Linked DNA regions of Homo sapiens: region 1 is linked to region 2. Evidence: fine-mapped expression QTL. A gene starts in region 2. The other region holds a variant in brackets. All regions are shown on one strand. Distances are between the middles of the regions. Region 1 overlaps POU2F2 (POU class 2 homeobox 2). Region 2 holds the start of POU2F2 (POU class 2 homeobox 2).

Evidence for each region. PIP is the estimated chance that this variant, and not a neighbour inherited with it, causes the effect.
Region 1: its variant is fine-mapped to the expression of POU2F2 in testis (GTEx, PIP 0.91).

The regions. Positions count from the first base shown.
Region 1 is chr19:42,078,981-42,093,914 of GRCh38, forward strand. It overlaps POU2F2 (POU class 2 homeobox 2), which reads right to left. Exons shown (of 15, transcript NM_001394376.1): 12 at 14,849-14,915; 13 at 13,089-13,290; 14 at 12,887-12,960; 15 at 7,130-12,611. The coding sequence ends at 12,277. It overlaps ZNF574 (zinc finger protein 574), which reads left to right. Exons shown (of 2, transcript NM_022752.6): 2 at 1-2,572. The coding sequence ends at 2,317. Among named protein-coding and RNA genes, the nearest start is that of ZNF574, 10 kb to the left of the region's middle. The variant G/A (reference allele first, on the strand shown) is at 8,352.
Region 2 is chr19:42,126,513-42,141,446 of GRCh38, forward strand. POU2F2 (POU class 2 homeobox 2) reads right to left here and starts at 5,934. Exons shown (of 15, transcript NM_001394376.1): 1 at 5,872-5,934. The coding sequence starts at 5,899. LNROP (long non-coding regulator of POU2F2) reads left to right here and starts at 6,117. Exons shown (of 3, transcript NR_038332.1): 1 at 6,117-6,249; 2 at 6,393-6,516; 3 at 10,160-10,587. MIR4323 (microRNA 4323) reads right to left here and starts at 7,001; the gene lies at 6,933-7,001. RefSeq lists enhancers at 3,376-3,485, 7,156-7,205, 13,225-13,726 and silencers at 6,616-6,875, 13,625-13,919.

The DNA.
Region 1 (14,934 bases), 48 kb before region 2:
CTACGAGTGTGTGGATTGCAAGGCTCTCTTTGCCAGCCAGGAGCTCTGGCTGAACCACCGGCAGACGCACCTCCGGGCCACACCCACCAAGGCTCCTGCCCCTGTTGTCCTGGGGTCCCCAGTTGTTCTAGGGCCTCCTGTGGGCCAGGCCCGAGTGGCTGTGGAGCACTCATACCGAAAGGCAGAAGAGGGTGGGGAAGGGGCGACTGTCCCATCTGCCGCTGCCACCACCACTGAGGTAGTGACTGAGGTGGAGCTGCTCCTCTACAAGTGCTCTGAGTGCTCCCAGCTCTTCCAGCTGCCGGCGGATTTCCTGGAGCACCAGGCCACTCACTTCCCTGCTCCTGTACCCGAGTCTCAGGAGCCTGCCTTACAGCAGGAGGTGCAGGCCTCGTCACCTGCAGAGGTGCCTGTGTCTCAGCCTGACCCCTTGCCAGCTTCTGACCACAGTTACGAGCTGCGCAATGGTGAAGCCATTGGGCGGGATCGCCGGGGGCGCAGGGCCCGGAGGAACAACAGTGGAGAAGCAGGCGGGGCAGCCACACAGGAGCTCTTCTGCTCAGCCTGTGACCAGCTCTTTCTCTCACCCCACCAGCTACAGCAGCACCTGCGGAGTCACCGGGAGGGCGTCTTTAAGTGCCCCCTGTGCAGTCGTGTCTTCCCTAGCCCTTCCAGTCTGGACCAGCACCTTGGAGACCATAGCAGCGAGTCACACTTCCTGTGTGTAGACTGTGGCCTGGCCTTCGGCACAGAGGCCCTCCTCCTGGCCCACCGGCGAGCCCACACCCCGAATCCTCTGCATTCATGTCCATGTGGGAAGACCTTTGTCAACCTTACCAAGTTCCTTTATCACCGGCGTACTCATGGGGTAGGGGGTGTCCCTCTGCCCACAACACCAGTCCCACCAGAGGAACCTGTCATTGGTTTCCCTGAGCCAGCCCCAGCAGAGACTGGAGAGCCAGAGGCCCCTGAGCCCCCTGTGTCTGAGGAGACCTCAGCAGGGCCCGCTGCCCCAGGCACCTACCGCTGCCTCCTGTGCAGCCGTGAATTTGGAAAGGCCTTGCAGCTGACCCGGCACCAACGTTTTGTGCATCGGCTGGAGCGGCGCCATAAATGCAGCATTTGTGGCAAGATGTTCAAGAAGAAGTCTCACGTGCGTAACCACCTGCGCACACACACAGGGGAGCGGCCCTTCCCCTGCCCTGACTGCTCCAAGCCCTTCAACTCACCTGCCAACCTGGCCCGCCACCGGCTCACACACACAGGAGAGCGGCCCTACCGGTGTGGGGACTGTGGCAAGGCTTTCACGCAAAGCTCCACACTGAGGCAGCACCGCTTGGTGCATGCCCAGCACTTCCCCTACCGCTGCCAGGAATGTGGGGTGCGTTTTCACCGTCCTTACCGCCTGCTCATGCACCGCTACCATCACACAGGTGAATACCCCTACAAGTGTCGCGAGTGCCCCCGCTCCTTCTTGCTGCGTCGGCTGCTGGAGGTGCACCAGCTCGTGGTCCATGCCGGGCGCCAGCCCCACCGCTGCCCATCCTGTGGGGCTGCCTTCCCCTCCTCACTGCGGCTCCGGGAGCACCGCTGTGCAGCCGCTGCTGCCCAGGCCCCACGGCGCTTTGAGTGTGGCACCTGTGGCAAGAAAGTGGGCTCAGCTGCTCGACTGCAGGCACACGAGGCGGCCCATGCAGCTGCTGGGCCTGGAGAGGTCCTGGCTAAGGAGCCCCCTGCCCCTCGAGCCCCACGGGCCACTCGTGCACCAGTTGCCTCTCCAGCAGCCCTTGGAAGCACTGCTACAGCATCCCCTGCGGCCCCTGCCCGCCGCCGGGGTCTAGAGTGCAGCGAGTGCAAGAAGCTGTTCAGCACAGAGACGTCACTGCAGGTGCACCGGCGCATCCACACAGGTGAGCGGCCATACCCATGTCCAGACTGTGGCAAAGCGTTCCGTCAGAGTACCCACCTGAAAGACCACCGGCGCCTGCACACAGGTGAGCGGCCCTTTGCCTGTGAAGTGTGTGGCAAGGCCTTTGCCATCTCCATGCGCCTGGCAGAACATCGCCGCATCCACACAGGCGAACGACCCTACTCCTGCCCTGACTGTGGCAAGAGCTACCGCTCCTTCTCCAACCTCTGGAAGCACCGCAAGACCCATCAGCAGCAGCATCAGGCAGCTGTGCGGCAGCAGCTGGCAGAGGCGGAGGCTGCCGTTGGCCTGGCCGTCATGGAGACTGCTGTGGAGGCGCTACCCCTGGTGGAAGCCATTGAGATCTACCCTCTGGCCGAGGCTGAGGGGGTCCAGATCAGTGGCTGACTCTGCCCGACTTCCTCTTTGGCACCTCCATTCCCTGTTGCTGAAGGCCCTCCAGCATCCCCTTAAGCATCTGTACATACTGTGTCCCTTCCTCTTCCCATCCCCACCACCTTGTAAGTTCTAAATTGGATTTATTCTCTCGTGAGGGGGGTGCTCTGGGGTCCTTGACACACATAAAGGTGCCCCCCCACCTTCCACCTCTTAGCACTGGTGACCCCAAAAATGAAACCATCAATAAAGACTGAGTTGCCAGCAGTGTGTAGAGTGGAATTTGGGAGTCATGGGTCTTACCTCTCGTGGCTGCATCACCAACACCCAGAAGTGGGCCTGGCAGGTATTAGGGGTAGTAGGAGCTCAGTAAACATTTGCTGGGCTGAAGAGAATGACCTGGTGTTCATGGGCATGGCTCTCATAGCAGGGCCTTCACTTCACTGCTAGATGGAGGTAGCATGGCTCTCTTGCCACTAGAGGTCCCATGGCTCTGTGGAAAAGCTCAAGAGTGTTTGTACTGGTGGCAGGAACTTTCAGAGAAATCAGATTTTTACACTCCTGTCCCTGACTCCTGGCCTGATGTGGACCTTGTCTCCCAAGGCCATCTGATTTTCTCATTGATCCCCAAGAGCAAATGCAGGTAGGCATGATCTCTAGAGCTGTGGAATTAAAGGAGATTCTGAATAATATGTGTCTGGATGTAGGAAGATTCATGAGAGGTGGTGACTTGAATTCCCCTGGAGTTGGACTTTGGCTCAGCCAACAGATTTTTATTGTGAGTGATGGATTGTTGGGATGGCTGGCTAATGTTTGAACATCTAGTCAGTCTCAAGTACTATATAACTGAATAATATTCACACTGATTACGTGAGAACATTTTGCAGGGAAGGAATCTCCAGTCAAAAGCATTGAGATGACTTGCCCAAGGTCACATTCAATCCAGGCAGGGCAGAGCTTGAATTTAAGCCTGATTTCATTTCATTTGGTTTAATCACCGATATGCTTTTCTCTCTACTCTGTTGCCTTCTGCATACTTTGGGGAGGGTGGTAGAGACAAGATGGGAGTATGTGACTGGTGGGATGCTAGGCTGCTGTGCTAGCCTTGCTTCTGAGACCCCCCCCCCCAAAGATTATTCCAGATCTTTCTGTTGAACTCTTTTTCCTTTTTATTTTTGAGTTGGAGTCTTTGCCGCCCAGGCTGGAGTGCAGTGGTGTGATCTCGGCTCACTGCAGCCTCCACCTCCCAGGTTCAAGCGTTTCTCCTGCCTCAGCCTCCCGAGTAGCTGGGATTATAGGCGCGTGCCACCACACCCGGCTACGTTTTTGTATTTTCAGTAGAGACGGGGTTTCACCATGTTGGCCAGGCTGGTCTCAAACTCCTGACCTCAGGTGATCTGCCCACCTCAGCCTCCCAAAGTGCTGGAATTATAGGCATGAGCCACTGTGCCCGGCCTGAAAGAACTCCTTTTTTAAGACAGGGTCTCACTGTATCACCCAGGCTGGAGTGCAATGGCACGATCTCGGCTCACTGCAACCTCCGCCTCCTGGGTTCAAGCAATTCTGCCTCACCCTCCCAGGTAGCTGGGATTAGAGCTGCGCACCACCATGCCAGGCTAGTTTTTTGTATTTTTAGTAGAGACAGGGTTTCACCATGTTGGTCGGGCTGGTCTTGAACTCCTGACCTCAGGTGATCTACCTGCCTCAGCCTCCCAAAGTGCTGGGATTACAGGCATGAGCCACCGCGTCTGGCCTAAAACAAATTCTAATAATTGTTCTTGTAAAATAAATGACATAACATTTGAAAAGTTAATGTATTAGGGTTCTGTTTATACAAAAAAAAAATCAGGTTATGTGCGTGTGTGTGTATGTGTGTATCCTACCTGTTATATGTATATAAATTACACAATAGATACAGTAAATAATATATATGTATATAAAGATTTTTTTATAGTTTGTTTTACTCTATAGACATACAAACATACATTTTAATGTTTATATACATATATATAGTTCCAAATCCTAGGATTTGGAGTATTCTTTTTAATTAAGTTCTAGGGCACATGTGCAGAACATGCAGGTTTGTTACATAGGTATACACATGCCATGGTAGTTTGCTGTACCCATCAACCTGTCATCTGCATTAGGTATTTCTCCTAATGCTATCCCTCCCTAGCCCCTCACCCTCTGACAGGTCCTGGTGTGTGATGCTCCCCTCCCTGTGTCCACATGTTCTCATTGTTCGGCTTCCACTTAAGAGTGAGAACATGTGGTGTTTGGTTTTCTGTTCCTGTGTTAGGTTTTATTTTTATCTTTTTATTAAAAATGGGGTCTTGCTGTGTTGGCCAGGCTGGTCTCAAACTCCTGGCCTCTAGGGATCATCCCATTTTGGCCTCCCAAAGTGCTGGGATGAGAGGCATGAGGCACCACACCTGGCCTGTTTTTTTCTATTTTTCAGAGTCTCGCTCTGTCACCCAGGCTGGAATGCAGTTGCACAATCACAGCTCACTGCAGCCTCAACCTCCTAGGCTCAAGTGATCCTGTGATCCTCCTGCCTCAGCCTCCCAAGTAGCTGGAACGACAGGCGAGCACCACCACGTCTGGCTACTTTATTTTGTAGAGATGGCGTCTTGGGTTCTGTTTGGTTCTGACTGTGCCACCTTGAAGATGGGCCTGAACCAAATGATCTTCCTCCATGTACTATTTTTATGTCCCATCCCTGTTGATTTGTTTTGAGAGTTGAGGGGCTTTGCTTTCTTTGTCTTGCCAAAACACTGCAATGCTGACACTTTTTGTCTTACTAAATATGAAACCTGTCTTTCACTCTATTCCTTTTTCCTGTGCCTCAGTTCCCCCAACCCTCACTATCGACTTTGCAGGATCCCAGCACCTGTGTGCCAAGCATACATTAGAGGATGGAACAGTGCTGAGGAAACGCAACAGCTTTTTTTTTTCCTGAGATGGAGTCTTGCTCTGTCACCCAGGCTGGAGTGCAGTGGCACAATCTTGGCTCACTGCAACCTCCACCTCCCAGGTTCAAGTGATTCTTCTGCCGCAGCCTCCCAAGTAGCTGGGACTACAGGCGTACACCACCACGCCCAGCTAATTTTTGTATTTTTAGTACAGACGGTTTCACCATACTGGCCAGGCTGGTCTCGAAGTCCTGACCATTATAATGATCCACCTGCCTTGGCCTCCCAAAGTGCTGGGATTCCAGGCGTGAGCCACCATACCTGGCCCAATTTTGTTCAATTTTTGTAGAGATGGGGTCTCACTGTGTTGCCCAGGCTGGTGTCGAGCTCCTGGGCTCAAGGGTTCTTCCTGCCTTGGCCTCCTAAATTCTAGGGTTACAGGCATGAGCCACCACACATAGCCTGTTTTTTTTGTTTGTTTGTTTTTGAGACGGAGTCTCGCTCTGTCGCCCAGGCTGGAGTGCAGTGGCACATTCTCAGCTCACTGCAAGCTCTGACTCTGGGTTCATGCCATTCTCCTGCCTCAGCCTCCTGAGTAGCTGGGACCACAGGCGCCTGCCACCATGCCCAGCTAATTTTTTGTATTTTTGGTAGAGACGGGGTTTCACCGTGTTAGCCAGGATGGTCTTGATCTCCTGACCTCGTAATCCACCCGCCTCGGCCTCCCAAAGTGCTGGGATTACAGGCCTGAGCCACTGCACCCGGACTTTTTTTTTTTTTTTTTTGAGATGGAGTCTCGCTCTGTCGCCTGGTCTGGAGTGCAGTGACACGACCTCAGCTCACTACAGCTTCCACCTCCCGGATTCAAGCTATTCTCCAGCCTCAGCCTCCCGAGTAGCTGGGTTACAGGCGTGCGCCACCACGTCCGGCTAATTTTTGTATTTTTAGTAGAGACGGGGTTTCGTCATGTTGGCCAGGTTGATCTTGAACTCCTGACCTCAGGTGATCCGCCCGCCTCGGCCTCCCAAAGTGTTGGGATTACAGGCATGAGCCACCGCTCCCGGCATTTTTGTTTGTTTTTGGGTGTTTTTTTTTTTTTTTTTTGCATTTTTTTGGTGATGTGAAAAAATGACATATAACTCTTCTGTTAATTTATTTGACTATTTGTGAGGTTGAAACTTTTTAATGTGTTAATTGAAACTCTGGTTTTAAAGAGTCTCTTTAGTCCTCTGGGGAAGCATCCAGGGATGGAAATGGAGAGGTATTTGCTGGTTTCCTGGCTTTCTCATAGTTCTCATATATTGAAGACAGTGTGCTGGAGCTCAGTCCTAAGCACTTTACTTAGACCATCATCCTACAACCTTGTGAGGTAGGTATTGTCCCTTATTTACAGATGAGGACACAGAAGCTCACATATTGAAGGTCATATATTTATAAAATGGCAGAACTGAGATTTGAATTCAGAAGTATGAATTCATCCTAAATTCAAAGACTTGGTTCTTTGGCAAGAACATTTGTGCAGGTTTTACTTCCAAACATTCACTATTTTTTAAAATTTAATTTTTTTTGTTTTTGTTTTTTTTGTTTTTTAGACAAGGTCTCTCTCTGTTACCCAGACTGGAGTGCAGTGGCACGATTACGGTTCACTGCGGCCTTGACATCCCGGGCTCAAGCAATCCTTCCACCTCAGTCTCCCAAGTAGCTAGGACTAGACAACAGGCACATGCCACCATGCCGAGTTGAGTTTTTGGGGCTTTTTTAGAGAAGAGTTCTATGTTGCCCAGACTGTGAACATTCACTATTGGAACAGAAGTAAAACCCTCCCCTCCCCAGCATACAGATCTCCAACCCCACACCCTGATTTCTTCACCACTCTTCCCAGGACAGAGAGGAGACCAAGGGAGAGTAGGCATCATTTCTCTCTGTACAGTTTTTAATTTTTTATTTTTTGATGTTTGTTGTTCAGATGAATGACACACTCAAGTTACAAAAATGGGGCCTTAAAAGAAGCACATTGTACAATGAACAAGCAGATTGGAGTTAAGAACACTGAAACACTAACCCGCTACCACGAGAAGAGACGGAGGGGGTACAGGAAGGGAAGGAAGGGGCTACCAACACAGGGGTCAGACGGAACTGAAAGGGAGGCTAACTTGGTAAGGATGGAGGAAAGGCAGGTCTACTCCAGGGCTGATTTCTGGATGCCGGTTCCTGGGCACCCTTGCCTTGTACTTGCCACCCCCTCCAACTTCACCCACCCCCATTCCAACCTGGTCATTCTGGGTGGTGAAAGACACCCACACCAGAATGGGCTGCGCCAATCAGGTCTTTACCAAGTAGGGTGGTCACCTTGCCCTAGTGCAGCCCTGGATTTGGAAGGTGATGGTGGAAGCAGTGGGACAAGAGGCCAGAAAGGAGTTGAAAGTTCAGGCCCCTGCTCTTCCCAAAGACTCCTCGCCCATTCCCCACCCTGCCATTATCCAAAGGCTCTCTACGAGTTGCCGAGAGAGGCCCCCAGTCACCCTGCAATTATATAAATAAATAAATACTGAGCCCCTGGGTTTGGGGGACATATTGGGGGAGGGGCAGCAAGGATAGAGGACAGGAAAGAGAGGAAGGGGAGGGAGGCAGAAGGGAGGGGTCACAGACATAGTAAATAGTTGTCTCCATCCCAGCAACACTTCTCTCTGGATTTTTCTCTCCTTTTGTTTGTTTAACAAGGAGCTAACAATTCAAGGACAAATACTTAAAAATATACATTATTTTTTCTTTGTTTCCGCCTTTGTCATCGTCGTCTTGCTTTGGAGACTGCTGAGGTCAAAGTTTAAACCGCATGAAGGACTTGCGGCTTGGAGTTTTTGTGTATTTTTTTTTATTTTTATTTTTAATTTTTTTTCACTTTTTTTCCAACATATAAAAAGGTAGCGGAGTTGTCTGTGGGTTTTTTTTTTTTTTTAAATGGTTAAATCTTTGGTTTGTTTCTTTTTTCTCTTGGAGGCCTTTATCTCTCGCACTTGCCTTTCCCACTCAGAGACCAGTGGGGGCCCGCGTGTCTCAATCTTGCTGTCTGTCTCACTCTCTCTCTCACTCAGGTCCCCCTACCCTGGGCTAGAGGAAGAGAGAGGCACCCTGGT[G/A]TTCATGTGGGTTAGAAAAACTAGTCAGGTCAAGAGGTCACCCTGACTTGGCTAGTCCCTCGCCAGATCTCCCCAGGGCTTGGAGAGCCCGTCATGGCCTTCTCCAGGGAGATGGATGGAAAACTCATATCCTTCCCCTCCTCCTGATCTCAGCCCCAACTCCTACTGGGGCTTGGGTTCCCCATCCCTACCCACCCCCACACACACACCCACCCCACCCCCCAGAAGAGAACAGAGAGAGGTGGTTTAGTTACTGGCATCAATTTTTTTTTTTTTTTTTTTGGCACAATGAAAAGGCCCACCATTAGGGTAGACCCAGTCTCTGTCCCTCCCTTAAGTAGGAGGTCAGGGTTGGGGAGAAGAGAAATTCAGAGGGCTCCCCACTGCTCCAACCCACTCATCTCTCCTCTCTTTCTAGCCCAGGCCCTTGGCCCCCAACCTCGGACATCTAACCTAGCCCATAGCCTAGCCTGGGGTTGCCCTCCCCATCCCCCACATAAAGCTCCCCAGCCCTCCAACTCTCTCGCTCATACACAGACACACGGACACAGGCTCTGTACAGACCACAAAATAAAAACGATGAGATAGTTTTGTTTCCCGGAGTCGAGACGGGGGACCAGAGTGTAAGGGGCAGATGGGGGTGGGGGGCATGAATTCCCCCATCACCTTCCCAACCCTGGCTCCCTCCAGCCCCCCAGCCCCTTGCCCTGGCTGGCCCCCAGCCAACGATATTTGGTTTCCTTTTTTTAACATTAAAGTTCTATGAGGTATTTGGTGCCTTATCTCGAGTCCTCAGGGGAGGGGGGCCCAGGGGGAGACCTGGGGCTCACCTGCCCCTCCCTCCCTCCTACCCCCTTCCCAATATTTGGTTTCACAGCTGTAGTTAAAGCTTGGGATTTGGTTATTTTTCCCCCTCCCAGGAATTTTTTTTTCTTGTTTTTCTTTTCCTAGGTGTGAGGGTTGGATGGGGAGGGTCCCCAGCACCCCCGGCTGCACAGGGGTCCCTCCACCAACATCAGGGCATCTGCCCCATCCCTGCCCCCTGCTCCTCCTCTCCTCTTTACCCCACTCCCACATACTGGGGTGGGGAGAGGTCCCAGGTGGTGGGACTTGATGGGGAGGAAGCAGGATGAAGTGGGTGGTGGTGAGTCCTGGATTTTCTTTCCTTTTTTTTTTTTTTTTTTCCTTTTTGGTCTAGAATCATAGTTTTTGTTTGAGTCATCTCCACCATGCCTTCCATGCTGCCTGTCTTCTCGGAGGGGGTTTTTGGTTGTAATTCCTTTCATTTTGCTCTGCTCAAATGTCCTTCCTATTTGGTCAGGAGCCCTTGGCCCCCTCTCCACCCTTGGGCTGGGGCCCAAGCCCTCTTGCCAGTCCCTTCTCTCTTCAGGAAATAAACATGGACAAACTCAGAGGTAGGGTAAGGGCAGGGAGTCGTTCAGCGGAGATGCTTACATTCCGGTGAGGTTGGGTAGACGAGGTGCCAGGCCCCATCGTGCCGGGGTGGGAGGGGCGGCTACTTCACCACTGCCCGGACAAGGCACCCAGAGGCCCCTGCAATGGCCGAGTCTCTGCTGCCTCCGTCGCCCAGCCCAACAGTTTCATTTCCCGGGTGGGAGAAGGGAGACAAGGAAAAAAGAGAACGCTGAGGCCTGGAGCTCCATCTGCCTCTCCTCAGAGTGTCCGGCAGAAAGTGGAAGCTGCCCAGGCCAAAGCCCTGCGGTCTCAGGGCTCTCCTCTCTCTCTGCTCCTGCCCAACAAGGGGCAGGGGCCACACTACGGCTGTCAGGCCCCACCCTGATTTCAATGGCTCGTGTCCTTCACTGCAACACTTTGGTTTGAGGAGAGACACAGAAAGAACAAGATTGAGAGAGAAGAGAGGAGAGCAAAGGGAGAGAGAGGAGACAGGAAGGAGGAGAGGAGAGAGGAAGGAGGGGAGGAGAGAGGAAGGAGGGGAGGAGAGAGGTCAGACAAAAGAGAACCGAAAAAGAAATCAAAGGAGGAATCAAACCACCCAAAAGTTGTTAAGTTTTCCTTCATCTGTTCTTTTTGCTTTCTTACTCCTTTTTTTCCTGTCTTTTTTTAAAGCTTTTTCAGTTGATTTGGGAGGGGAGTTTGGGGCTCTTCACCCCTGTCCCTGATACCCTCTCTCAGCCCCGCCCACCCGCTTCCATCTGCCCTGGCCGAGGGACAGGCCCTGCCCCAGCCGCCCCCTCCGGCTTTCCCAAAGACAACGTCCATGAGGTATTTGTGAAGAGAAAGAAGCATCCGTCCTTCCATCCGCCTTGGGGAACAAGGGCCTGGACCACCGGTGCAGGGGCTTGGCTCCGCCTCGCGGTTCCATCTTATTCTTGAAGAGTCCTCATCTTCTTTCCCTTTTATATATATATATATATATATGTTTATATATATATATAAATTTTTTTTCTAGTTTAAATTTATTGTTTGTTTGTTTCTGTTTTTTTGGTTTTCGGTTCAAAACTTTGTTGGCCTCCACAATAGCAGGAGGGCAGGGTGGCTCCCAGTGGTGTCTCTCCTCTGTCCGTCGTCAGTGGAGACGTGTCCGGGGCTGGTCAAACACAGGGTCCAGCCAAGAGTTGTGGAGGTCTTGTGGGAGTGGTGGCCACCACCGCGCCCTCTCAGATGGGGACCACAGGCTGTGGCACTGTCCCCACCACATGGACCCTGATGGGGATGCCATCTCGAGGAACCCCACCACTGGGGTGTGTGCGTGCGTGCATGTGGGGGGAGGGAGAGGCATTCGCCAGTACCAGAGGGGCACAGGGTGGGAAAAGCGAGGTGAGTTCTCTTTTTGGTTTCTGGTTAATGTCAAAGAACGTGAAGGATCCCACGGATAGGCACTGGAATATGAATTTTTTTTTTTTTCAGGGAAACAGACAGGATGGAAAAAGACAACTGAATGCCCTCAACTGAATGTCTTCATCCCCTCTTGCCTGAAATTTCCACCTTCCCATAGGCTGGGGAGGGAGTCAGTTCCAGAGCAGAGGAGGGTGACAGGGTTGAGGAGGGACTTGTGAGAGCTAGAACTTGGCAAAATGGCCTAGCCCACCCTTCAAAGGGGAAAAGAGGGAGGAACAGGGGATGAAAAGTTGTCCGCAGGCCTTCCCTTGAACTCTCCCCTGCTGGGGGGAGGGAGGAGGTTAAAGCAAGACCCCCTGCCCAGGTGGGGAGAGCTGGGGGCCAGGGGAGAAGGGGACACATGGTAGGGACACATTCTGTTGAGCACAATGCTAAAAATTCTGTACATCCTTTGGATGAAGCTACTGAATATTTGGTGTAAGGTTGTTCAGGCCCTTTCTCTTTCACCTTCTGGAAAAGAACATTTGGTGGGTGGTGCTAAGCCCCAGCCCATCTGCCCAGGCTGTGCCCTGTCTTCGCTGGCCCAGGGCTGGGGGCTGGGATTAGGAAGCTGGCATCTTCTCTTTTTCCTTCTGTAGCCCCCACGGGGGAGGCAGGGTTGGGGGTTGGTCCCACAGCCAGGGCTCGGTGGCATGAGGTCTGACCTGCTGGAGGCTTCTCCGCCCCTGGCTGGGGTTTTTATTTGGCGTCGTAGCAGTGAGGGTGAGCACGCTGAGGTCTGGCTCGCGACTGGTTTTTTGGTTTGTTTGATTTTGTGGGTTTTTTTTTTTTTTGGTTTGTTTTTGGTTTTTTTTTGTTTGTTTTTCACCTCTGGTTCCTTTGGGGCAGCTGGTTTCTGTTGTGATTATTTTTGGTTTTCTCTTTTGTTGGTTAGTTTCTTTCCTTTTTTTTTTTTTTTTTGGTTGGTTGTTTTTTTGGTCTTTCCTCCCTTGTCACTCCTGCTCTGAGGACCCTCTGCGTCCCCACCACTGGCCTCCTCGCCCTCTTCCCAGGCAAGGGACCAAGGCAGGGACCAGAGGAATGGGAGGGGAGGCATGGCTGGCCCTCACTCAGGTTTGGACCCTGCCTCGGGCCCCCCTGGACCTCCAGGGGTCTGTGCTGCCGTCTCGCTGCAAGTGGAGGAGGAGGAGGATGAGGATGAAGAGGATGAGGAGGAGAGGCCAGGAGACTTGCTGGAGATGGAGGCTGCCACAGCCGCAGCCGCTGCTGAGACCAGGCCCACACCAGGCGGGGTGCTGAGCAGGGGCAGCCCAGCATGATTCAAGAAGAGCGGCGAGGTCACCAGGCCAGGGCTCCCCGGGGCTGCACCGGCTGCCCCCAGCACCAGATTCCCGCTGCCATCAAGGCTGGTAAGGGGCAGGGTTCCACCAGAGGCCAGGGCTGGCGGGGAGAGAGAGAGGCTGGGCTAAGGGCATGCCGGGCCAGGGGAGACCTTTGCCTTCCAGCATCCTGCCCAGAGTGCCCCCCATCTCCCCATCGGTCCCACTGACCCCCATCAGCACCCCTCACACCTTCCCCAAAGGTGAGATGGGTATGAAGAGGCAAGCAATGCAGTGAGCAGGGGCAGGATGGCATGGCTGGAGCAGCAATGGCAGGGCTCGAGGCCCCAGAGGATAGGGCTGGTGACGATGGGTGTGACATGAGGCAGCACGCACCTTGGATAGTGGCCAAAGGGTTGTTGCTCATGAGGGCTGGACTCAGCCCGGAGCTCAACCCCACCATTGTGCTTCTGCAAGAGGCAAAGCAGAGGCATTAGCAGGGGCAGGGACCTGCCAACATAACTGGGGTGCCGCTCCCCACCCTAGAAGCAGCAGCGACCCTGCTTCTCCCCACAGCTTCCCACGTGCACCCACTTACCCCGTGCTGGGGTTCAGGCCTGACAAGCCGATAGCCGAGTGGCTGCCTTGAGGGCTGGGGTTTGTGCTGTTGGTGGTGGCCGGGGGTGGGGGAGTGACAGAGGGGATGGAATTGAGGGGGGGCGCAGCCCCGCCCCCGCCCCCACCCCCTCCAGCTGTCCGGCTGGGGTGGAGCGTCCCCACAGCTGAGGATAAGGTAGTAACTGCCAGAGAGAGACAGAAAGATGGGGTCTTCAGCTTCCACTCGTCCCCCACTGAGGAACCTGGGGTCAGCTCCTACTTGTCCTCCCGCCCAGCTCACGCAGCATCTCCTCAGTCAGAACAGCCTTAGACCTCCCTGCCCTCTCTTCCCAGAGTCATTTCCCTGTGCCTCTGCCATGGTGACCCCTGTCATAACAATGGAAGTCAGAGCAGGTGCTTCCTGCTGAGCCCTGGCACTCTACACTCCCTGCCCTGAACCACTTTTTTACCGACTAGAAACGGGGGTGCCCAGGAGACAAAGCCCTATGGCTCCCTCTAGGGGCTGGGGAGGGGCGAAGGGTGCCAGGCACACTGCCACATCTGAGGGATGGGCAACCTGGCAGGGGCTGAGGGCCCAGACTCAGCCAGACTGCTGGGGTAGAAACTCCTGGCTCTGTCTCATCCCAGTGGTGCCCTTGGGTGAGTGCCTTAACCTCTCTGACCTTCAGATCCCTTGTCTGGAAAATGGGGATAATAATAGACCCTATCTCATAAAATGAGTTTGAGAATTAAGTCAGTCAATGCAGTTTAGAAAGAGTTTAGTACAGTGCCAGGCAAGCACTTACTACTTTATAAATCTCCACTTACTATTTTCTAGCCTGGGGAGGGGCAACGTGTTGTTTTATGTGTATATATATTATGTGTATATATATTATGCATATATATATTATGTGTGTGTGTATATATATATATATATATATATTTTTTTTTTTTTTTTTTTTGAGATGGAATCTCACTCTGTCACCAGGCTAGAGTGCAGTGGTGTGATCTCAGTTCACTGCAACCTCCTCCTCCCGGATTCAAGTGATTCTCCTGCCTCAGCCTCCCGAGTAGCTGGGATTACAGACACACGCCACCACGCCCAGCTAATTTTTGTATTTTTAGTAGAGACAGGGCTTACCATGTTGGCCAGGCTGGTCTCGAACTCCTGACCTCAGGTGATCCACATGCCTTGGCCTCCCAAAGAGCAGGGATTATAGGCATAAGCCACCACACCCAGCGAATTTTATATTATTATTATATATATGGTGTATAACCATACATATAAACCTACCGTGTCCCAGGAAGAGGGAGGGGAACTCTGGATACAAGACTATGTATGTATGCATGTATGTGTGTATATGTACATACACATACACTCTTACATACATGTATTTATATCTTTTTATGTTTTACACATTCATAATAATTTAATAAAAACTGAGGCTTAGAAGGATAAAATAAGTGCTTGAATTCACACAGCTTAAAAATGACAGAGGCCAGGCACAAAACTCAAGTGCCTCACCTTTTACCAGGCCCATGCTTTTCTCATATGAAATCGTGAAGCAGATTAAAGCTGAGTTGCTCCTGCAGAGGAGGGGTGAGTCCTACCCTCTTCCCACTGTCTCTCCCATTCCCCCACCCACACTCCCCAGGCCCAGTCTTGAGGCCCATGGACACCCAGAGCCACTTGGGAACCTCAGGCTCCAGCCTGTGCCACATCCTCCCAGTCCCCCCTCACCATTTTCTGCCCTCCCTGACCTGTTGTGCTCAGACTGCTGGAAGCTTGGGACAACGGTAAGGTCCCCGCGCCCCCTTGGGGTGTGACCTGAGGAGAGAAGAAAGGA
Region 2 (14,934 bases):
ACCCAGGAGAAGACCAGTGGACCACAAGCCAAGGAGAGAGGCCTTGGAAGAGACCAACCCTGCTGACATCCTCGTCTTTAACTTACAGCCTCCGTAATTGTGAAAATGAATTTCTCTTATTTCAGCCACCTAGTCTGTGGTACTTTGATGTGGAAGCCCTAGCAAACTAAGCCTCTCACAGCCCCTGCCCTCCTGCTGTCCCATCCCTGAGCCCCCAGTTGTGGCTGTCTGTGTCCAGGTTCCTTCCCCACAAGACCAATGCGACAGGCCTGGTCTGACTCATCACTGGGTCCCCAGCATCACAAGCCCAGAACGGGTTGTAACTGCTGAATGTCCCTCTCTTTAGCAGTCTCTGTTTCCTACTACTTCTCACCCTTGTCTTACTGTCTCCCTGCTATTTATTTTATTTAATTTATATTTTGAGACAAGAGTCTTGCTCTGTCGGCCAGGCTGGAATGCAGTGGCACAATCACGGCTCACTGCAGCCTCGACCTCCTGGGGTCAAGCTATCCTCCCATCCCAGCCTCCTGAGTAGCTGGGACTACAGGTGTGCACCACCACATCCAGGGACTACAGCTGTGCACCACCACATCCAGCTAATTAAAAAAAAAATTTTTTTTTTTTGTAGAGACGGGTCTCCTTATGTTGTCCAGGCTGGTCTCAGACTCGTGGGCTCAAATGATCCTCATGCCTTGGCCTCCCAAAGTTCTGGGATTACAGCCATGAGCCACCATGCCTGCACTTTGCCATTTAAAACATTTCCTGAGGCCTTGGCATGGGCTGTTCCCTCTGTCTGGAACACTGTTCCCCAATCTGTCCACCTGGCGACCCCCGGACTCATCCTTCAGAACCCAGCATAAGCTCTGTTTTCTTTTCTTTTTTTTTGAGATGGAGTCTTGCTGTGTTGTCCAGGCTGGAGTGCAGTGGTGGGATCTCGGCTCACTGCAAGCTCCAGAGGTCTCCTGGGTTGAAGCAATTCCCTGCCTCAGGCTCCCAAATAGCTGGGATTACATGTGCGCGCCACTACGACTGGCTAATTTTTGTATATTTAGTAGAGAAGGGGTTTCACTGTGTTAGCCAGGATGGTCTCAATCTCCTGACCTCATGATCTGCCCACCTCAGCCTCCCAAAATGCTGGGATTACAGGCGTGAGCCACCACGCCCGGCCATAAGCTCTGTTTTCTATGAAACCACCACCTTGATGCCCCCAGCTCCCAGCCAGGTCTCTCTCCAGCTCCCCATACCCTAGCACCTTCCCTTGTCACTGTCTTAGAGGCTGACTGTAGCTAGCCGGGCCCCACTATGTCTCCCCTATCAGACTAGGAATTTTTCAAGGGCAGATCTGATCTCAGGTTCCTAAACACTCCCCAGCAGAAGACATGTGGATCAGTGGCCCCAAGGTCCTGATCTCCCTCCCCCAGGCCTTTGCCTCTGCTCGTCTCCCACTTGGGTGACCCTTTCCTTCTCTACTGGCAAACTCTTGCTCCTCTTTAAGGTCCAGCTCAAATGTCACCTCCTCTGTGAAGTACTCTCTGATTCCCCAGATGGTCAGTGTCTCTCTCTTCTGGGCTTCACTGACCCTGTACTGTGCTCCACCACATCCTGATCATCCTGGGCAGAGACCTCCACCCCAACTGTGGGCTCCTCAGGAGCCCAGGCTGGAGTCATTGCTGCACAGGCCTAGGAGTACGTCTTTGGAATGAATGAATGCATTAAAGAATCCCCTAACTGACCAGGGCCCAATCCTGTCTAAAACAAACCCCTATCTCTACTGTCACCCAACATCCCCAAGAAACCCTAACTTAAATCTTTAAGGTATGATTTCCTCTGCAGAGACTGTGGCTGGAAAGACAAGAGTGGTTTGAGGGAAATTTTTCACCATTCTGTTACCCTTATTCTCCCTAAATTATCCCAACCACTCCTACATATCCCTGCATACTCCCTGCCCCACACTTGGCTGGGTCACAACAAAATGGCCAACTGCTGCCCTTTGTCTTTTCTCTTTCCACCTCCCCTGTCAGAGCTCAATCTGAGAGAAGGGTCAGATCATTTCCACCAGGAATGAACAGGGAGCTCCATTTCCACCGTGGACTAAAAGCCAAATGACGCCTTAACAGGGACTCCAGGGCACTAGCAATCATAGACTTGGAGGGTCCATCAAATGGCTCGGCCTCAGCCTCAGCCTGAGCCCAGGCAGAGATGCCCATCGCCTATCACTCAACTCTAGAAAAATATTGATGCCTGTTCCCACCCTAGACTCTGATTTCAGTGGTACAGGGTGTGACTTGGGCATCCAGATATTTAAAAGCCCCTCCAGGTGATTCTCTTTTTTTTTTTTTAGACAGAGTCTCACTCTGTCGCCCAGGCTGGAGTGCAATGGTATGATCTCAGCTCACTGCAACCTTTGCCTCCTGGGTTCAAGCGATTCTCCTGCCTCAGCCTCCCGAGTAGCTGCAATTACAGGCATGCATCACCATGCCCGGCTAATTTTTGTATTTTTATTAGAGACGGGGTTTCACCATGTTGGGCAGGCTGGTCTCGAACTCCTGACCTCAAGTGATCCGCCCACCTCAGCATTCCAAAGTGCTGGGATTACAGGCATGAGCCACCGCACCCAGCCCCCTCCTGGTGATTCTAATGTGCTCCATCCCCTGGCACCTTCAGAAGCCCCTCTCAAAGCCTCATTCACACACAAAAGATTGGTTGGTTATGTATGGCTATTCCCACCCCTCATCATAGGTAATGTGTAATATTTTAGGGGAACTGAAAGAGAAAAAGCAATGCATAGCCCTACCAGGCCCCTTGGAGCCATGTTGCCCCTTGAATCCCACCTTCCTCAGGTCAGACACCCCTCAACCAGGGCTGCCCAGCCCTGAGCTCACACTCACTTGCCCGACTGCCCCAGGCCTGGGACTCTTGGTCCTCTCCACCCTCCCACTCCTCCCTCCCCGGACTTTCACTTCTCCTCTGCATTTCCCCCCGCCAGTTTTAGCAGACTTAGGCCAGCTTCTCGTTAGCACTTACCGAAAACGGGGCTAAATATAGAGGGCCCAAGGACTGCCCCTCACCCCTCCTGGCCCCACTTGTCCTGTCCCCTGGGTCCCCTGCCTCCGCAGCCTGCTTCAATTAGGGGTATGGCCTGGGAGCCCCTGTGGGCAGGTTGGTGCTGCCGGGAACCTCTGTGGGCCCAGCTGGCCGAGCCCCCGTCCTCCCCAGAAGCAGCACCTCACCCCTCCCCACCCCACAGCTGTCCCTGGGTGGCCTCAAGGGAGTGAACATTTCTGAGTTGTCAGGAGGGAGGGATGGAGATACAGGCAGCAGACACAACAAGAGAGGTGGCCCCACAGCTGCGCTGACAGCAGGCAAGAGCTGCCAACAGTACACACCCCATGGCCACAGCCAGGCAAGGCCCCGGCCAACACAATACAAGAAACAGATGTGCACAGATTCCAGACAGGAATGTGAACAGGTTTGCAGATACGACACATGCCCAGACATGATGCCACGGGCATATATGCAAAACACACACCCAAACGTGCGTACACACATGCACTCACACACACTCTCACACTGAGTGACACACAGCCAGCCAGACACACGTAAAAAGTATACAAACTCACACACCCGGAGTCGAACACAGACATACACCCTCCCCCTACATACTACACCCAGTCACTCACAGACTCAGACATGTGTACGCACACATGTACTTACACATGTTCTCACACCAAGTCACATCAGTCCAGCCAGAGATACACACCCAGACATGCACATGCTCACACAGAGTCACACACACAAACACAAGTGCACACACATACACCCAGAGTCACCTTATCCTGGAAGATGGCCAGGGCTGACCTCTGAACCCAGTTCACAGGTGTGGAGTCTGAGACCAGGCAGGGTGAGTGATCTGCCCACAGCCACACAGTGTATTAATTCATGTCCAGGCAGGGAAAATTCACCCCAGTCTTCCCACACTGGGCTGTTCTGTGAGAAATCCCAAGTAAAGGGTTTAGCCTACTGCCCAGCACCTCTGAGGTCCCCATTTAACCCCAGAGAGGAACGAGTCAGTGGGAGCAGACACCCTGGATCTCTGTGTCTACACTGTATGGACACACACACATATACACAGTTGCATACACAGTCACCTCAACAAATAAACATGTCACCCTGCAAATAGTCTTCCTTTCATCCCACCCCTCTCCTCACCGCCTTTGCTTGCTCATACCCACTCATTCTTCATATCCCTGCTCAGACACCCCCTTCCTCCAGGAAGCCCTCCTTGACACTCTACCAACTAAATCACATGTTTTCAGGGCTCCTACGATCCCCTAATACCTCCCCGTCCTGGCCCAACCCCTCTACCTATGTCCCCCTATCCCAGCCCTGACCCCTCTGCCTGGGCCTCCCCCATCCCAGCCCCAACCCCTCTACCTATGTCCCCCCATCCCAGCCCTGACCCCTCTGCCTGAGCCTCCCCAACCCCAGCCCTGACCCCTCTGCTTGGGGCCTCCCTCATCCCAGCCCCAACCCCTCTACCTTTGTCCCCCCATCCCACCCCGACACCTCTGCCTGTGCCCACCACCCCAGCCCTGACCCTTCTGCCTGGGCCTCCCCCATCCCAGCCCTGACCCCTCTGCCTGGGCCTCCCCCATCCCAGCCCTGATCCCTCTGCCTGGACCTCCCCCATCCCAGCCCTGACCTGTCTGTACTGTCATTGGTGACAGGTCTGTCTTCTCCAATAAACTGGGAGCTCCAGGAGGACAGACCTGAGCTACCCTTTCCACTGTACTTCCAACACCCAACACAGAACTACTCAATAGATACATGTTGGTGGAGGACACACGGGTGCCCGCACACAATGGCGCATATAGGACAGCACACACCACCAAACCAAGACTCATGCCCATGGTCATGCCTACACAGCCACAAATGAAACAGGCATGAAGGGCTGAGTGCTTGCCATGTTCCAGGCACTGTGCTAAGCATGCTACATGTATTACCTCATTTAAGACTCCCATCAACACTGCTGAGTGATAGCCATCACCATACAGACATATACACATTCTACTAAATGAGCCAACAGCTATAAATCACCTTGTACAGTGCCTGGTGCACAATGTTCACTCAGCCAACTGACATTTGGTGGAGAAGGCATTTAATAAGCACACAAACAAACACATAATGAAATTCCCAGCAGTGATACGTGCCGTGAAGAAAAGATAAAGCAGGGTGAGGGGACTGAGAGTGACAGGATCAGTGCCAGTTTAGATGGGGAGGTCAGGGAAGGCTGCCCTGAGGAGGTGACATCTGAGGTGAATGAAGTGAAGAAGGGAGCCAGGCAATCATCACCCCACAATGCCACACACAACAGCCCCCTACACTCACAAGCACACAGCAGTCCCACTCAGAGCACTCAGAACTACTGCACACACACATGCACACGCACACCTGTACCAGATGTGCACACACACACTCAAAAGGGAATGACATCCCCCAAGTCCAGCAACTTGGCATTCCAATCCCTTTGCAGCCCTTATCCAAGGATTGCCCATGTCACCCACCCCACTGGTTCTCCACATGAGGGCCCGCTACCAACACCCAGCTCCCTCCCTCCCGTCCCCAGACCCTTCGGAACAGGGCAACAGAGAAGAGAAGATGTTGGAAGTTCCGGTGCCTGATGTGGAAAGAGAGGGCAAAGAGGAGCTGTGGGGGTTAGCGGGGACCCGGCATGGGAGAGAGGGAGTTGCTAGAGTACAGAGGAGAAGGACAATGGAGACAGCTGAGGAGGAGGGGCAGGCAGGGCCCGCAGAGCAAACCTAAATGTGCTGCCTGTCCTCTGAGCAGTGGCACAGGCACCAGCCCCCTTACCTGGAGCCCCCATGCTGGAGTGAACCATGCTGCCCGCCCCGCCAGGGCTGGGGGAACAACTGTGTCATCTCCCCACCCTCTCTGGGGGCCGAGCCCTCCCTGCCGGAAGTCACTCAGGGAGGAAACCACAGGGCCGGTCCGCCCCCTTCAGAAGGGAAAATACCCTGGCCCACAGACCCGCCCCGGCAGCCCGGCCCACCCCAAATCATGTGTGTGTGCTGGGGGGTGGGGGCTAGTGGGGCAGAGGATAAGCAGGCTGGAAGAGCCGACTCCTACGGCTGCGATCCAAGAGGTGCCTGCAACAGTTGCCCCCCGACTTCTGTCGCCCCCATGGAGGCAAACAAGTCTGGAACAGGGAATGGGGGTCTGGGAGAGAAGGTGGGTCCACAGCAGTAACAACAATAAAACACTAGCCAGCAGCTTATTGGAGAGAGGGCTTTGCCGATGCCTGACCCTGTGCCTCACTCTTGACAGGTGCCATCTCCAATGTGGTGGTCACTCTTATTTGCCCCATTTTACAGATGAAAAGACTGAGGATCAGAGAGGTGAGCAGTAGCTTTCCCAAAGGCCCAGAGCCAAGAAGCGTTGAAGCTTAAAAGCACGCCGCGGCAGGGAAGATCAAGCAAGCCCTGCGCCTATCTGCAGGTGAGCTGTTGGGTGCCACCATTGGGAGGAAGTGGTGCCCGTGGGCAGTGGTAGTGGGGACGGTGGGTCGGGGACTTGGCCTGGGGCTACAATAAGTCGCCGGCCAAATGCGGGCGCCCGAGGCGGCTCCAGTGGAGGGGAGCACCAGGTCCCCGGGCTGCCGGCTGGCTCTTCGCGCTGCGGCGCTCCCATTTCAGCGCTTCCCTCCGTGCCCGCCAGAGGGCGGCAGCGCCCAGCCAATGGGCCGGAGGGCGGGGCCGGCTGCGGAGAAGGGAGCCCCTCCCTCCGCTCCCCTCCCCAACACCCTCCCAACACCTCCGCTCGCACACCTGCGAGGGTCACACAAAGGCGCAGGACTCCCGGCGCACCGCAGCTCAGACAAAGGCGCGCCCGAGTCCGCTGCCCTCTTCCTCTTGGTGCCCGAGGTCTGAGGCTGTGGGGCTGCCTGGCGTCTCCAGACACCCCACATGCCCGCCTGGGCCCCGCAGGACATCCTGCGCCCCGTGGCTGGGGGGCCCCCTAAACCACAGGTGCATGCACAGACGCCTGGACTCACCCTCACACACACAAGTATTTCTACAGATGAACCCCAGCACTTCACACACACACACGTGTGCACACACACGTGCATGAACACATCTATGTGCACAGGCCCCAACACCAGCCCTCCCTGCTGACGATGGTCACTCCCATATACTGATACCTCCTCTACTCCCTCACATGGACCCATGGGCACAAGGGCACTTCTACACATATGTGCCCAAGCATACTTCCTGGCCACTCGCACCCACTCACACACAGGCACACTCAGAAAGGGTATACTACAGGCACAACTACAGGAGTGCCCTCCCCTGACTGCACACGTGCCCTGTGCACCCAGACACACCCAGGCAAGCAGGTGGGCACAACAGGAAGGACTGGCAGTTCTCATATATGCACACGAGAGGTGACCGTTTCCCGGCATCTACACTCCACAACATCCCGTATCGTAAAGGCCATTTCACAGAGGAGATCCACAGACCACACAGCAACTGGCCACAGGATTTCTATACATGAGGGTCTTCCCGACAGCAGCCTGGTAGCAGTGGACACTGGAGCCTTGTCTCAAAGCGACATTTACGCAGTAAGCTTTGTTTTCAGTTAGGATTTGTTTTGGGGGGCTTGGAAATGGGGCTATAGGACATTATGGGGGGGGGCAAAACCTCACCAGCCACCCTTATGCTCCACCCTGGACAGACTCAACATCATCCACGTCAGGAACACGCTTTTGGATGTGACCCCATTCCAGCCCCCTAGAGCCAGCAGAGAAGGACCACCCACTTCCAGTGCGGCCAGGTCTGCAGTTCAGTCCTGGAGCCGGGGAAGGCTGTATACGCTCCCTGAGAGATGAAACAACCCCACACCTCTCGCCTCCCATGCTGGCTCCATTCTCAGTGCCTCAGACCAGAGCTGGGCCTGGTGAGGGGATCTTGAAGGAGGATGGGCCTGCCTGAGAGAGGATAGAGGGGCAGAGTTTGGAACACACTGGCAGCTGGAACAGGGAGGCTCAAGGCAGGGGGAGATGGTGGCCTCGTTGCCACAGAAGAGGCCTCGAGCCATGCTGAGGGAGGCAGGTAGGGCATGGGAGCTAGGGAGCAGTGGGGGCCACTTGAGGTGCAGGGAGCTGGGAGGGAGGCGGTACAGGGGAGGCCAGGCTGGGCTCAGGGCTGAGCGGTAATTAAAGGAGACGTAGGGGGCTCCCCAGGGCCAGCGGGGCTGGTAACTGACACGCGGGCCCCATTGCTCCGCTCATATTTCTCGCCGGATCGATACGTTTGACTCCCGACAAGACAATAATCGCTTGTACGCGGCCGGCGAGTCGATCAAATACATTATTAGAGCGAGGTCCCCCGGGGGCCCGGCGGGGAGTGGTGGGGGGGAGCAGCCAGCCCACCGGGGACAGCAGAGCGAGATTCTTCACCCCTCAGGGCCCCCCAGCCATGGCCTCTTCCTCTTGGCCACCCCTGGGGACCCTCTCTGTGGCTCAGTTCCCCAGCCTCTCTCTGAATGTCTGCTGCTTTGGTGATCTCTCTACTCAGCCCCCAGCATCATCCTTGCTCTGTGAGGGAACCCAAGGGTTCTTTCCCCATAGGCACTGCCCTCATCTGTAGGGCTGTGGCATGTGGGAGCTCAGAGAGGCTCCTCAGACCCCTAGCTTGGCAGGAGACAGGGAGACCAAGCCTCAGGCCATACTCTGAGTCCATGGCTGGGCCAGGAGATGAACTTGGGCCCAAGACTCAATGATACCCACCTCCCTCTGCCCAGTCCCCTTGCTGCATCTAAGCACACGGGGCTTCAGCAGCGCCCAGGCCAGGGGCAGCCTCTGGGGGGTTAGGGAAAGCTAACCTAGGGACCCAAACAAGCAGGAAAACAGGATGATAGGGGTGGCAGGAAAACAGGATGATAGGGGTGGCAGACAAACACATACACAAAGAGATGTGTGTCTGCTCCTGCTGCAGGGCCATGTGGTCCCCCAGTGGGCCTCAGAGACCCTCAAACCATGCCCAGCCTCAGCTCTGGCCCACCCGAGACACTGCTTGCCACTCTTGCCCACTTTCCTGGCTTCTAGGCTCAAGCCTATTTCCCCTTTTAAAAAAAATTAAATTAAGCTTTAGCTTTATTTTTAAAGTCCAGGCTCTTTTTTTTTTTTTTTCCTTTGAGACAGAGTCTCACTCTGTCGCTCAGGCTGGAGTGCAATGGCACAATCCCGGCTCACTGCAACCTCCGCCTCCTGGGTTCAAGCGCATCTCACGCCTCCTCAGCCTCCCGAGTAGCCGGGATTACAGGTGCACACCACCAGGCCAGGCTAATTTTTGTGTTTTTAGGAGAGACAGGGTTTCACCACATTGGCCAAACTGGTCTCGAACTCCTGAGATCATGTGATCCACACACCTCAGCCTCCCAAAGTGCTGGGATTACAGACATGACCTCAAGCCTATTTCCTGTTTACACACCTGCTTTGCCCTCTAGACCCGAAGTGCCCCTTTGCTTCTCCAGCAGCCCTAAGTCAAAGTCAAGTTCTGCTTAGGAGTATCCAGCATTCAGGGACTTAAAATATATCTTCCTCTTTGTCTTCATTAGCAGCAGCAGCCCCCACAGCATTGTGGTCTATGCTTTCCTTTTTTTTTTTTTTTTTTGAGACTGTCTGGCTCTGTCACTCAGGCTGGAGTGCAGTGGCATGATCTTGGCTCACTGCAAACTCTGCCTCCCAGGCTCATGCCATCCTCCCACCTCAGCCTCCCAGATAGCTGGGACCACAGGCGTGCACCACCACATCCAGCTAGTTTTGTATTTTTAGTAGAGACATGGGTTTTGCCATGTTGCCCAGGCTGGTCTCAGAACTCCTAGGCTCAAAGCCATCCACCCGCCTCAGCCTCCCAAAGTGCTGAGATTACAGTCGTGAGCCACTGTGCCTGGACTACTCTGTGCTATTTGAACCAATATATTATTTCTAAGTCCTCATGACAGTCTGAGGAGGTAAAGGTCTGCTATCATCCTCATTTTACTAACAAATTGAGCCTCAGAAAGGTGAAGTCTCCTGCCCCAAGTCACACAGCATGAGTGGTGGAGTCAGGATTTAAGCCCAGGTCTGTCCCCCTGACAGCTTGATCTCTCTGTACTGAGCCATGGAGCTCCTTCTTGGAGGCGTGAAATGCTCCCCATCCTTCAGGAGACAACAGCAACAGCCAGCCACTCCTTGTCCAGTCAGCAATGCTGGAATACCTCTGCAGCTCACAGTCCAACGCCCACAGCCTTCGAGTCAGTTTCTTGATATTCGGCAATGCACTGGACTCCTGATCCCATCAGCTCCTGGCTGAAGGTGGGCCAACCCTTCCCCATTTCCTTCAATTCAAACATTTCCTCATGTCCCTCAGTGCCAAGCCCTGTGCTGGGAGCTGAGGACCCAGAGGTGAGCTAGATCTAAAATCTGACCTCAAGGAGCTAACAGTCTGAGAGGAAGACTGGAGTGGATAAAAATACCTTGGTAATTTATCACTTAATAAATATCCAATAAATGCTATTATGTGCCAAGCCATTGCTAAGCTCAGAGAATACAGTGGTTAAAAGCAACCCATAGAGCTTATAGTCTTTGGGGGAGAAATAATTTTTAAAAGTTATCAACTAGCAGGGCATGGTGGCATACCCCTGTAGTCCTGGCTCCTCTGGAGGGTAAAGCAGGAGGATCACTTGAGCCCAGGAGTTCAAGGCTGCAATGAGCTATGATGGCACCACTGCTCTCCAGCCTGAGTGACAGAGCAAGACTCAATCTCTAAAATAAATAAATAAATAAATAAAATAAAAAATAAAAAGCCATCAAATAAATATGTAATTCTAAGTTAGGAAAAGTGATTTCAAGAATAGGTAGAGGAGGGGCTGGGCATGGTGGCTCACACCTGTAATCCTGGCGCTTTGAGAGGCTGAGGTGGGAGAGTTGCTTGACACCAGGAGTTTGAGACCTGTCTGGACAACATATCGAGACCCCATCTCTACAAAAAAAATTGTTTTAACTTAGCTGGGTGTGGTGGTGTGCGTCTGTAGTCCCAGCTACTCGAGAGGCTGAGGCGGGAAGATTGCTTGAGGTCGAGGCTGCAGTGAGCTACGATCATGCCACTGCACTCCAGCCTGGGTGACAGAGAGAGACCCTGACTCTTAAAAAAAGTAGAAGGAGGATACCTGATGTAAACAAAGGATGGCATGTTGCAGAAAACTGTCCCAAGGAAGTGACATTTACATAGCAATTAGACACAGTATTCTCGAGGCAAAGAATGTGAAGGAAGACACTCCAGGCAATGGGAACAGAGGAGGCGATGGCCCCATGGAAACAAACAGTGTGGCAATTCCAGGATCAGAAAGGAGGCCTATAGAGCTGGAGCAGAGTGAACAAAGAAGAGAAGATAGGAGACGAGGTGTGAGGTGGAGAGGCGGCCAGGGCCAGATCGCACAGGGCCTTGCAGGCCAAGGTAAGAATTTGGGACTTCAAGAACAGTGGGACACCTGAGAAGGTTTCAAGCAGGGGAGTGGCATGGTTCTATGAACACTTTTGTGACAATCCTGGCTGCTTTGGAGGCCGCAGTGAAGAACCAGAGGATGGAGTGTGGGGGTCAGCGTGAGGAAGCTGATGAATTCCACATCACCATCAGGTGATGATGACAGGAAGCAATAATTGGTGATTGGCTGAATGTGGGGCATGGGAGTCACGGAGAAGTCAAGAATGAGGTCCAGGTATGTTAAAGTATCTTTCCTGGCACAGAAGATTGGGGCAGGTGGAAGAGCTTAAGCTCAGGTAAGAAAGATCAGGGTAGGACCTGAGGTCCTGAAGGATGAAAGGAAGGGCAGGAGGTGGGAAACAGCATTCAAGGGGGTTGCCAAGGTTGAAGACCCCAAGGTGGAGACAAACTTGGCTTTCCCAAGTTTGTCCTCAAGTTCCTTTGAGGTTGGATTTGAAGTTGCAGGTGGAAGGCTTCTGCGCAGAAGCATTCTGTGTAAGGAAGTTCTACTGGGGACAAATGTGGGGACCGGCTGGTAGCATGGAATCTGGAGACAGGATGACCAATGGGGAGGCTGGGACAGTGGTCCAAGGCGGCAGGGGAGAAAGGAGCCATGAGGATTAGGATGAGGATACATATTCAAGCTGGAGTCTACAGGAACAGGATATGAGAAGTGGGTGCTGGGCTGGGGTGGCTGGGTGGATGCGAGGCCATCACTGAAAGACACAGTGAGAAGGGAAGCAGGGGGAAGACACTTGGGTCAGTTCCAGGGGGAAAGTCAGGAAGCAGCATCTTCCAAGAAGCAAGGTCTGTGGACCAGAAGTCAGCAGATGCTTAACAAATTCACATGGATACAAACATTCCTCATCATATCTCCCCACCACAGCCAATTTTCCACATCCACCAGAATTCCCAGTTCGCCTCATGTAAGAAAAGAAGCACTGTGATGTGGCTCAAAGAAGATAAAAGAAGACTAACTGGCCGGGTGTGGTGGCTCACACCTGTAATCCCAGCACTTTGCAAGGTCGACGAGGGCGGATCACCTGAGGTCAGGAGTTCAAGACCAGCCTGGCCAACATACAATAAAACCCCATCTCTACTGAAAAATACAAAAATTAGCTGGGCATGGTGGCGCACGCCTGTAGTCCCAGCTACTTGAGAAACTGAGGCAGGAAAATCGCTTGAACCCAGGAGGCGGAGGTTGCAGTGAGCTGAGATCACACCACTCTACTTCAGCCTGGGTGACAGAGCGAGACTGTCTCTGAAAAACAAACCAACAAATAAAAGAAGACCAACCAGTCCCTGTTCTGAAATTCGCCCTCTAGTGACCTAGGGCCAGCCCCCTGAACTCCCTGGACCTCAGTTTCCCCAGATATATGTCTGAGATGGGCTGGAGAAGCACTCTAAGACTTCTTCCAGCTTGAACATTCTTTTATTTTATTTTACTTTATTTGGCTCACTGCAACCTCCACCTCCTGGGTTCAAGTGATTCTCTTGCCTCAGTCTCCTGAGTAGCTGGGGCTACAACCATGCGCCACCATGCCCAGCTAATTTTTGTATTTTTAGTAGAAATAGGGTTTCACCATGTTGGCCAGGCTGATCTCAAACTCCTGCCCTCAAGTGATCCACCCACCTCAGCCTCCCAAAGTGCTGGAATTACAGGCATGAGCCACTGTGGCCCGGCCCCAGCTCTAACATTCTGTAGCTTGAAAGAAACAAGAACGGGTGAGATGGACTGACGGCTCAACTGGCCATTGACAAATAGGGAGGTAAAGCATGGCCAACCTACTCTAAAGAGGCCCTGGCTGGGTATACTCGGCAACCCACTTACTCCTCACTGTCATCTTATGAGGGAGAGACCATTATCATCCTCACTTTAAAGATGAGGAAGCTGAGGCCCACAGTCACACAATGAGGCTGGAGTGAACCCAGAGGCTTGTTGACCCCAAAGCTTGTGCTTCAGCTGTTTTGTTGAGCTCACTGCTCCTCAACCTGGCTTGTGTGAGTCTCATTCAGACTGCAGATCCCCCAGGAACAGGGTCCCTTGGCATCCACTGCCATGTGCTCACCAGGGTCTCTGAATGACCTGTGGGAGCAGGCGCCTGGCCCTGGGTCTTCCTCAATGAGGCTCTGCCCTTGGCCCAGGAGTCCCTAGCCCCCTTGCTGCTGCCCCCAGGCTTTCCACAGCCCACATGCGCACTTCCTGTTCTCTAGCTCCCACTGGGCGCAGCACCAACTCTGCAGGCTCAGAGGCCGCCGCTGTCATCCCAGCGCAGGGAGCTGTCCAAAGGCTGAAAAGCAAGAGCCCATGGCCTTGGTCCAGAGCCCTCCAGTCCTGCTGCCCCCAGGACAAACCCAGTCCCCTTACTGTGGCCTCCAGGGCCCTACAGGACCTCCCCGCTGGCCACAGGAGTACCACACCTCAGCCACACTGGAGGAAGCTAATTTTGTCCCCAACATGGGGCCTTCAACCTTGCCAGCCCCCTTGAATGCTGTTCCCCACCTCCTCCCCTTCCTCTCATCCTTCAAGACTCCACTCAAAGGCCACTCCTCAGAGAAACCCTCCCTAGTCATGCTCCACTCCATTCCCAGTTTTATTTCCTTCAGAGCACTCTGAAATTCAATTGCCGCCTATTTGCTTTACTGTCTCTTTCACCCTCTAAAATGTAAGCTTTCTGAAGACAGGTGTCCTTTTCTGTCTTGTTCACTGTGGTATTCTTGGTGCTTTAACAGTGCCTGGCATATAGTTGATGCTTGAACCTTACTTGTTGAATGAATAAATCCTTCCAGGCACCCATGGTCCACAGAATAAAATCCAAGGCTGGCTCTCCAAACCCAAGTGGATATGGTGCCTCTCAACCTCCTCAGCTATCTCACCCTCAGAGCTCACCTTTCTCCTCTGTTCAATAACTTGGGCTCCCCTATGTGTCCCATCCCTCATGCCTGCTTTGTCTGCCACAAATTCTGTACACACCAGCCTCTGCTCAAATATCCTCTCTCTGGAAGCCTTCCCTGACCTCAGTCTTGCCACAGCTCCAGGTAGTATCCCCGGGCTTTAGCACTAATTGTACTGCACTGAATCACTTCCCAATGAGGCTGTACCTACAGACTGTGAGCTCCTTGAGAAGAGGGCTCAGTTTGACATGTTCTTGTAGACTCAGCACCCAGCACTGGGCCTGCATTTAGCTGAGGCTCCAGGAATGTTTGTTGGGTAAGGACAACTGCCCTGCAGATGGTTAACCATCTATACAGGTGAACATAATGACTAGTTTGGTAGTCAATCAGATGAGGGTTTGGAATCTGGTTCCTCCATTCATTTGCTGTGTGACCCTGGGCAGGTGACTTCTCTCTCTAAGCCTCAAGCTCCTCATCTGTGAAATGGGGGCAGTAA